Linked DNA regions of Homo sapiens: region 2 is linked to region 1. Evidence: fine-mapped expression QTL. A gene starts in region 1. The other region holds a variant in brackets. All regions are shown on one strand. Distances are between the middles of the regions.

Region 1 (4,321 bases):
GGGGGTGGGGGTGGGGTTCTGAGGGTCTCGGCTGGGAGGCGCAAAGTTGAAGGCAGCCAAGGTGAGCGCCTCCCCTCTGTGACAGTCCGGGGACCCGGACTGGCGCGCCTACTGGGGCAAAAGTGGGCTTGGCAAATCGAGGGCCAGGGGCAGGGCAAGGGCTAGGGATGCCCCACTTACCAGCGAGTAGAAGGCGGACGCCTCCGAGCCGTAGGTCACGTAGTTGCCATAGCCCTGCGATCCGCCATAGGGACCCCCATAGACGCCCAGCGCCGCGGCCGAGTTGAGCTCGTGGCGCGCGGTGGCCAGCAGCCGGCTCTCGTAGACCGGGCAGTAGACCGGCGCCTGGGCCGAGGCGGCGGGCCCGGAGTCCGCCAGCGTGCGGCCTCCGGACTCGCAGCACGTGCTCAGGGAGTTGGTGGCCATCAAGAACTGCAGAGAGAGGCCGCGAGGACTGGCGGGAAGCCGGGCTGGAGGCTGGGGCCCTGGGCCTTGCCAATCCCGCGCGCCGCCCACGAGGGCGTGCCCCGAGTACCCCCGGGCCTCCCGCCGTCCACACCAGGATGCTCGCCCCTTTCCACTAGCTTGTGCGCGTCTGGCCTCCTCCGCCACGTGGGGCCCAGCCGAGCACCTACACCCTTCCCCGGAGGGTTTCCAAGGCCTCTGACGCCATTTGCGCGCCAAGCCTCCTTCCCCAGGGGTTCCTTGGGGTCCTAGGACTCCCCTGGGGCACAGCCTGAGCCTTGTGGTTCAAACATCAGGGAACCCGGGCCCGGCCCGTCGGATTTTCTTAGCGCCTCGGCCTTTCCCCGGGGGTTTGGGGAGCAGGGGTTGGGCGTGAGGGGCGCGCGACCCAGGCCTTGCTAGCTCGGAAGCCGCAGGCAGTCGTAGGTCGGACACTCCCCACCCCCCGTCCCCGCCCCATCCGCCCTACCGGCACCTGCGGTGGCCTGGGCGGGGCGGGGCTCCGCTTACCTGGGGAGCCGAGGAGTAGGGGTATCCAAACTGCGGGTAGGACATGGCGGGCGCGGCCCGGGGCGGACGGGCGGGGCCTGCAGGGTTCTGCGCGCTGGGGCCGGCGTGGCGCGGCCACTGCTCCGGAGCTGCAGGCTTCTAGGCGCTGGGAGGGCGAAGCAGGAGAGCCGGTTAGTCCATCCCCGCGCTCCGCAAACTTTTCTAACCGGGTAACAAAGTGAGCAGCGGTGGCCGCCGCGATTCCTTTAACTTCGCATTCCGGAGGCTCGAGGGGGCTCTGGGACCGAGCGGCCTCGCAGCGGCGACAGAAATACATATTTTACGAAAAAGAAAAAAAAAAAAACGAGTCGCGCGAACCCGTCAAGTCAGATGTGCGCGGCTTGAAGCGGAGGAGGCTCTGACGTCAGCCCCACCTCGCGCAGCCCGGCCTGGCCGCAGACTCGCCGGTCACTCGCCGGCGGCTCAGGCCGGGAGGGGCCAGGACAGTCCCGGCCGCGCGGTGGACGGAGGGGCCATTCCTCCGGGCGTTAGCAAATAAATTCCATCCGAGTCAATATCGCCCAGCGAACGGTGTTTCTCTTTAGTCACCCGAGAACGAGAGGCACTTTTAATTAGAAATTAATTAATGAGCAGCTGCTCCTTCCCGCCCCACTGTAATCATTCGTCTCAATTACAAATGAGACCTATGAAAGGACACGCTGAAGATGTAATCAACAGTTAAAATTAGCCCGGCGCTGCGCAGGCGGCCGGCCCGGCCTCGCGCTGGCGCGCTCTGCTCCGAGTGGCAGGAAGGGGCTCGCAGGCGCCCCGCACGCGTCTCGTCACTATTGTTTAATCGAGAATCAGCAACGCCTCCCGCCGGTTTCCACCCTACGCCGGAATGGACTTTCAGAACCCACTGCGGCCGCAAGACAGCCCGCAAGAGCTGGTCAAAATGCCCTCAGGTGCGTGGGGGCTTCGGGGCCTTAGTTGGAGCCCGACACCCTGAGACTGGCGGCCCGAGGGCTGTAGGGCCGCCCCGGGCGTGCGCCCACCGGCTTTGCACCTCTGGGCAGCCGAGTGTCGCGGAGAACGCCCCATCTTCTCCACCGCGGTCTTTTAAGTTCCCGCTCAGCCCACCGCCCCCACCTCGCCTCCCCGACTTTCCTCCCCGATCCCCTTTCCGCCGGCCGTGCTCCGCCGGCTTCCCCCTGCCCCTCGCGGCTAAGCCGGGGACTGCCGGGCGGCCCTGCGCGCTCGGAAGAGCAGGTTCCTCAACCCAGGCCCCGGCCCCTCCCGCTAAGCTCGTCCCTCCCGGCGCCCCGCAGGGCTGGCTGCGAGGGAGGGGGCGTTGGGTGCCTGGCGGAGGCGCCCTCCCCTGTCCATTTTGCCCAGCTTTCTGTCTGGGGCGCACGGAGCAATCGGAAGAGGGGACCGAGCGCCCACCCCAGGACTCCCTCGGCCAGTACCCTCCCTGGGACCTTGCCCAAGTTCAAAGCGGAGGCCAGTGAGCAGGCGGCAAGGGGGCGGCAAGGGGGCGCCCGGGCCATCCCGAACCCGTTCCCCGCCTTCTGCGCCATCGCCCTCCGGGACCGGGACTCGCCCCGGTTGCCCTCGCCCCCTGGGCCGGCCTCCCGTGGTAAGTTGGGAAGGAAGCCGTGCAAGGCAGCGTTGTGCAGACTTGCTCAGAAAGATTCCTGGGTTCAGACCTGTGAATCGCCCCAGGGTCACCCTCTAATTAATGATGACGTCCTCGCCCTCTCCCCAGCTGCAAGCCTGCCTCCCAGAAACGAAATCTGCCTGCTCTTTTGACAGCTCGGTTGAAGGTGATTGATGACTATCTGGAGACCACAGTACACATCATATAATATCTGCTGCGTAATTGCTTTAATTTACAGATGAAAATACGAGTTCTCCGATCGCGTTGGACCGGAGCGGGCCACGTCCGAGCTGCTTGCAGAGGGAAACCATCGGAAATAATGAATAGCCGCTCCATGCAAATTATTCAGACAGTTTAGCGTCGGTAGCCGCGAGAAATATATAAAGAACACGAGTCAAATGACATTAATAATTGTTTCTGAATTCTGTATTGATTTCGCGGCAGGCCGCGTTTCTTTCTTTCTCACCTGAATCGCTAATATCACCTTCCTGTAAATAATAAGAAACTAGCCACCGGGGTTTCTCGCTAGAAATGAATCTCTCAACCCCTTTCCCTCTCCTCCTGCTCCTCCCCTCCCCCACCCTCCTTCCTCCCCTCTCCCACCCTCCCTCCTCCCCACTCCTTGCAGTTTTCTGGTTTTTCCCGAGCATCCTTCTACTTCCCATTATTTATTGTTTACAAACTACTCGCTCTCTCCAGGTAATGAGGCCCGGCTGAAGGAGGGGTGTGAGCCCAGCCGGGCCAAGGGCTGGGATGGGGAGTAGAGACCCCCAGAGGGGAGGCATTCAGCTGTGGCTTGTCCTTTCCTCACCTATACTCGGGGACCTGGCCTCGGCGACTGTGAGCACTCCGCCGGCTGAGGGGGAGAGCCAGGGCCCAGGGGCCCAGCCACCTATGCCCTGCACCTCTGGGCTCTAGTGCAACAGCTCAGCCCACCCAGACCTGAGGCTGGTGCATTTCCTTCCTTCCAGACCCGGCGGGGCTTAACTGGAGCCGAAGCCCCAGAACAGGCGGCCATTCATCTTCTGAGCAGAGTCTGGGAGAAGCAGCCTCCACTTCCCAGGGCAGCCAGTACGTGGGGGCCCTTTCGGGGGCTTCCTTTGACCACCACCGCCACCTTCTCCTGTTCTCTTTTGCCTTTCCAGCCTGTGTGCATAAATCGACGCTCCAGTCCCCACCAGCGGGCGACCCTTTCTCCGTGACCCAGAAACCTGGCCTCTGAATCGGCTTTCCCAGGCCGCCGCACACACACGCTCCACTTCCTGCCCGCCAGCAGGCCCCAGCGCCTGGGGTCCGGGCCCAGTCACAGTCACCCTGCCTCGGGAAGCTCGCAACTGCCCAGGAGGCCTCCTGACCCGCCCGGCCTCACCCAGGCCCCACTACTCATTCCAGGACACAGGGTCAATCCAGCCTGTGGATTGGCGACCACCGGGACATCTCACTGAAACCCTGTAGCCTGGCCTAGGCCCGCCTGCCCAAACCGGGGATTCTCACTGGGCCACCCTTCTCCCATAGATAATACTGGAATATTTTCCAAGTGCCTTCACCAAAAGGCCAAGCCTGGAGCGGAGGCACCCAGTGTCCCTTTCACCAACGATAGGACGCTCAGCATCTCAGGTATCAGCTGAACGCGTCTGCATAGACTCGGAGTGCTGAGCCTTCCTCCCTCTAGGGACCCCCGGTACTAAATACACCCGTGAGCAGGTG
Region 2 (4,380 bases), 65 kb after region 1:
TCCAAAGGCAGCCTCTGGAGGCCTCCGCCTGCCCCACACATCACCGACGCCTGGGTGCTGCCCGAGGCATCACTGATGACCACAGGGCTGGGTCCCCTGCTTCTCGTCTGTCATCACTATTCCAGCCGCTCCGTGTTCAAGTGGACCGGCCCTCATCTCCCCCACCTTCCTTCTTCCTCCCCGACACTGCCTCCTCCCAGGGGCTCTGGCAGACCCCCGGTGGCTCCTGGGCACACTCAATTGTCCAAACAAGAACTGCAGCAAGGAATTAGAGATTTCTTAATCAGCCTCACCTCCCTCCCCTGAAGGGTGTATGGTCCCCTTTCCCCAAGACAATTTGCCACCAACCACCTTGGGAGTGGGCTTGATTTCTTTCTAAACATTGGCCAGTCATCAAGATCACAGAGTGAAAGGCGTTCACATCTATATTTCCTTAAAGGGATTGTACATACCCAGCTAATAATAATTTAGTAGGATTTTTTTTTCTTTGCCTTATGTAGACTCTGTTCTTCCTTGCAGCCCATTGAGAGCAATGATCACCATGACTGTTCCCTCACATGCAGCAGCAATGATTGTCCAAGATATACATGTTCACAGAACAAACTTTTATCATACAAGTTTTCTTTTTCTGAGAAATGTGAAGTTCCAGAATACCCTTATTTTTTTTATTTTCTTTTTTGAGACAGGATCTTTCTCTGTCACCCAGGCTGGAGTGCAGTGGTGCAATCTCAGCTCACTGCAGCCTTGACCTCCTGGGCTGAAGTGGTCTTCCTGCCTCAGACTCCCAAGTAGTTGGGACCACAGGTGTGAACCACCATGCCCAGCTACAAAATGTGCTTACTTTAAAGCAGTTTCCTTCCTTTGCGATGGTATTTTTTGGGGTAAAGCCTGACCTGGATCATTAGTGACTGTAATTTGCAGCCCTCTACAGTCTCTCTTTTTTTTTTTTTTTCTTTTGAGACAGAGTCTCGCTCTGTCTCCCAGGCTGGAGTGCAGTGGTGTGATCTTGGCTCACTGCAAGCTCTGCCTCCCAGGTTCACACCATTCTCCTGCCTCAGGCTCCTGAGTAGCTGGGACTATAGGCAGCTGCCACCATGCCCTGCTAATTTTTTTTTTTTGGTAGGTTTTTAATAGAGATGGGGTTTCACCATGTTAGCCAGGATGGTCTCGATCTCCTGACCTTGTGATCTGCCCGCCTCGGCCTGCCAAAGTGCTGGGATTACAGGCGTGAGCCACCGCGCCTGGCCTCTACAGTCTCTTTAATTAGGATCCTAAATGTTTCTCCCGTGGTCTCATCTATTTTAACCTAAAACGCCCTTGGGGAAAACCTTTTGTCACTGCAACACTTCAGAACACACTTACAACAGGAGGTTTTTTCCCGAGGGCCTGCAGCAATCAAGGAGGGCCGTTCTGCTGGGTTTCCTGTTTTGAGCGGGATTTGTGTTCCGGGAGGCTGGGTGCTTCCTCAGAACTCTGTCTGCTTTTCCTCAGTAGGTTACAGACATTTCAGTCTACTAACCCCCAGAAGAAACAGCGTGCTGTTAGATTTAGTTATATTATCACAGGTCATTTTAAGATTTTCATTCATTTAATGTAAAAATCAGCCCAGAATTTTATTTTCCGTAAGGTGCTTAGGAGAGCGTGGGCATAGCCATGAGACCTCCGTGTTGGGTTGTGTTTAAAGATGTGTATTCATTTCTCATCCTCAGCTTTTGCCTCAAGAGTTTAGCCTCTGTCAGGATTAATCGGGGTCAGATTATCCTAACACGGAGTGTTTTCCATTCTTTCAGAAATTATTGCAACACCCTGCAGCGTTCAGACTTGTCATGGATGACTCTAACAGGGCAGGTGTTACCACGTCAACTGGTCCAAAAAACAAAATACCGGGTGCACATCCCTTGAAGTTTCGGGTGTGTTTACTCTGAGGCACCGTGCACTGCAAAGCTGGGGATTCACAGGCAAGTTTAGGTGAATCCTCGGAACACGTGACTGATGAATTCCGGGCCCGTGTCGGGCTCTCAGCCAGCGCCTGCTCCGTGCGCCAGGGACGGAGTGCTGCCTTCTCGGGAGTCACACGGGACTGGCTTAGCCCTGGCGAGTGTTTCGCATCAGGTGACAAGTTGTGCCGAGTGTCTGCCACCCTGCATGCCCACACTGAATCCGTGCAGGGCCCTCCCGGCCGCCTGCTCAGCTGTGGACACGGAGCTCCGGCACAGCCAAGTCCTGAATGACATGCAGCCAATTCTCTTGGGCCCTTTCCGGGTTTGTCTGTGGTCCTTCCTTCTGTGTTTCCAGGCTGAGTCCTAAGGCCCTGGTCCTGTG[C/T]CCAGTGTGGTGCCTTGGAAGTTCTGAAAGTCACAGGTGAGCTGGGTGCTCCTGGGTGTCCCACCCCGGCTAGGGCTGTCAGCATCATGAGTTCTGAAGAACTGCCCTGAGGGCTGCAGCATCCCTGCGGGGGCTCAGACCGGCTGGACCGTAGCGTAGTTTCTGGCCCCGGCTAGCTGGCGACCGTGGGCCTCAGTACCCTGTCTGCGGGGTGGGGCGATGCGAACCTACACCCTGGGATGGGGGTGCCCGCCCAGGGCAGTGCTGTCTGTGATCTTGCCATGCCCAGGGCACCCACTCCATGACGCTGGCTGTCGGTGCTTTCCAGGGGCACAGTGGAGTGTGTGAGGAAAGACCCCTGCAGACGGCCTCCGGCGGGCTTCGGGCAGCTCTCCCTGGTTGGGGTCCCAGGGTCTTCAGGGAAGCCCCAAGTCCTGGTCCTGTTCATCTTTGTGTCTCTAGTGGACAACATGTAAGAAATGCTACTTAAGCTGACCTGTTAGCATATGTAACATAATGCCGGGAAAAGAGCTGTGGCTGAATTGAATGATTTCTTAAATTGATTTTATATTGTGTGCCCTTTGAAAAATGTTTGGGGAGAATTGGAGTTAAAGTTTTCAACACAGTGTGGTCCTTGCAGACTTCCTGTGGGAGGGAATGACTTTCTGTTCCTCTGCGTTAGCATCCAAGTACACTCTTATGGCCTTTTCGATCCAATAATCACAATCTGGTCTTTGTCAGCTTTTTTTCAGGCAGTGACTTGGGTTTGTTCACACACTAGAAACTTAACTCACAAATCTTTAGGGTGCTAGGGGTTATGAGCGGGTTGGGAAGTGTCCCCACGTGGTTCACACCTGCCCTCTCCATGCTCACGGAACCACACGCTCGCTCCATCGTTTGTTGGGGGTTCCGTCAAGTGCCAGGTCCTCAGCGGGGCTCCAGGGGTGCAGAAAACGTGCAGGACAGCTCCAAGTTCACAGAGTCCCGGGGAGCTGATCGGCCACCAGGGCCTCTCGGTGTGGAGGGAAGAGGGACCGGCCAGCCCAGCTGGTCCTGAGAGTGCAGCTAGCAGCTGCTGACCAGCCCCCAGGGGGCTCCCGGGACACTCCCATGAGCGTGAGGATGATGAAGCTTCTCCCTCACCACATCCCAAGTCTCCAGGACACCAAGGGAGATGAGGGCATTTTAGGTTCTGCTCCCAGCCCATGCCACGACTTCTGGGCCCGAGGGCATCCTGTGCTGTTTTGTGTGAAGCGGCACAAAACATCCCACAACCACTGGGAGACGCCTCTGTCCTGGAACCGCTGCGGCCGCTCTCCCCACCCCTGCCAGGCGGCTCGCAAAGGGCAGCTCCTTCTTCCCGTCTGGGTCCGCACCACGCACCCGCCCTGGCCTCCTGCCCGGGGACATGCAGAGTCACCATGCGCTCTGAAACAGCCCCTCGGCAGCTTCACGACCTCACCAAGTGCCCGCCGCTCTCACGAGAGAGGTGGTTATGGTTGCGCATTGAATATGCTTGGGAGAGGCAAAGATGGATGGCGTAGTCTCTACCCTCACACCCAGTGCTGAGCGCGAGTCGTCCGCTGTGTGTGCATCATCTGCTGTGCGTGTGTCATCTGCTGTGCATGCCTGCGTCATCTGCTGTGTATGTGTCATCTGTTGTGCATGCGTGTGTCGTCTGCTGTGGGCGCGTGAGTCATCTGCTCTGTGTGCTTGTGCCGTCTGCTGTGCCTGCGTCATCGTCTGCTGTGCGTGTGTCATCTGTGCGTGTGTCATCTGCTGTGCGTGAGTCATCTGCTGTGCGTGTGTCATCTGTGCGTGTGTCATCTGCTGTGCGTGCGTGTGCCCTCTACTGTGGGTGTGTTCATCATCTGCTGTGCGTGCGTTGTCTGCTGTGCGTGCGCCGTCTGCTGTGCGTGCGCCGTCTGCTGTGCGTGCGTCGCCTGCTGTGCGAGTCGTCTGCTGTGCGTGCGTCGTCTGCTGTGCGTGAGTCGTCTGCTGTGCGTGCGCCGTCTGCTGTGCGTGCGCCGTCTGCTGTGCGTGCGCCGTCTGCTGTGC

Which allele goes with the higher level. Positions count from the first base shown, and alleles are read on the strand shown. Sizes are in standard deviations (SD) of each study's normalised expression.
For the expression in esophagus mucosa of the gene that starts at base 1,706 in region 1, allele T in region 2 goes with a lower level than allele C (small effect, 0.27 SD a copy in GTEx).

The links. PIP is the estimated chance that this variant, and not a neighbour inherited with it, causes the effect. A credible set is the group of variants that fine-mapping cannot tell apart.
Region 2: its variant is the best candidate, but not a certain one, in a credible set for the expression of IRX4-AS1 in esophagus mucosa (GTEx, PIP 0.58).

What each region holds. Positions count from the first base shown.
Region 1 is chr5:1,881,628-1,885,948 of GRCh38, forward strand. IRX4-AS1 (IRX4 antisense RNA 1) reads left to right here and starts at 1,706. Exons shown (of 2, transcript NR_183257.1): 1 at 1,706-1,919; 2 at 2,853-3,022. It overlaps IRX4 (iroquois homeobox 4), which reads right to left and starts at 1,298. Exons shown (of 5, transcript NM_016358.3): 1 at 976-1,298; 2 at 181-432. The coding sequence starts at 1,020. RefSeq lists enhancers at 2,162-3,014, 3,564-4,097.
Region 2 is chr5:1,946,904-1,951,283 of GRCh38, forward strand. The region is part of intron 3 of LOC124901165 (keratin-associated protein 5-5-like); the gene reads left to right. All of the region lies in intron 2 of LOC105374618 (a long non-coding RNA gene), which reads left to right. Among named protein-coding and RNA genes, the nearest start is that of CTD-2194D22.4, 62 kb to the left of the region's middle. RefSeq lists enhancers at 1,830-2,331, 3,315-4,380. The variant C/T (reference allele first, on the strand shown) is at 2,323.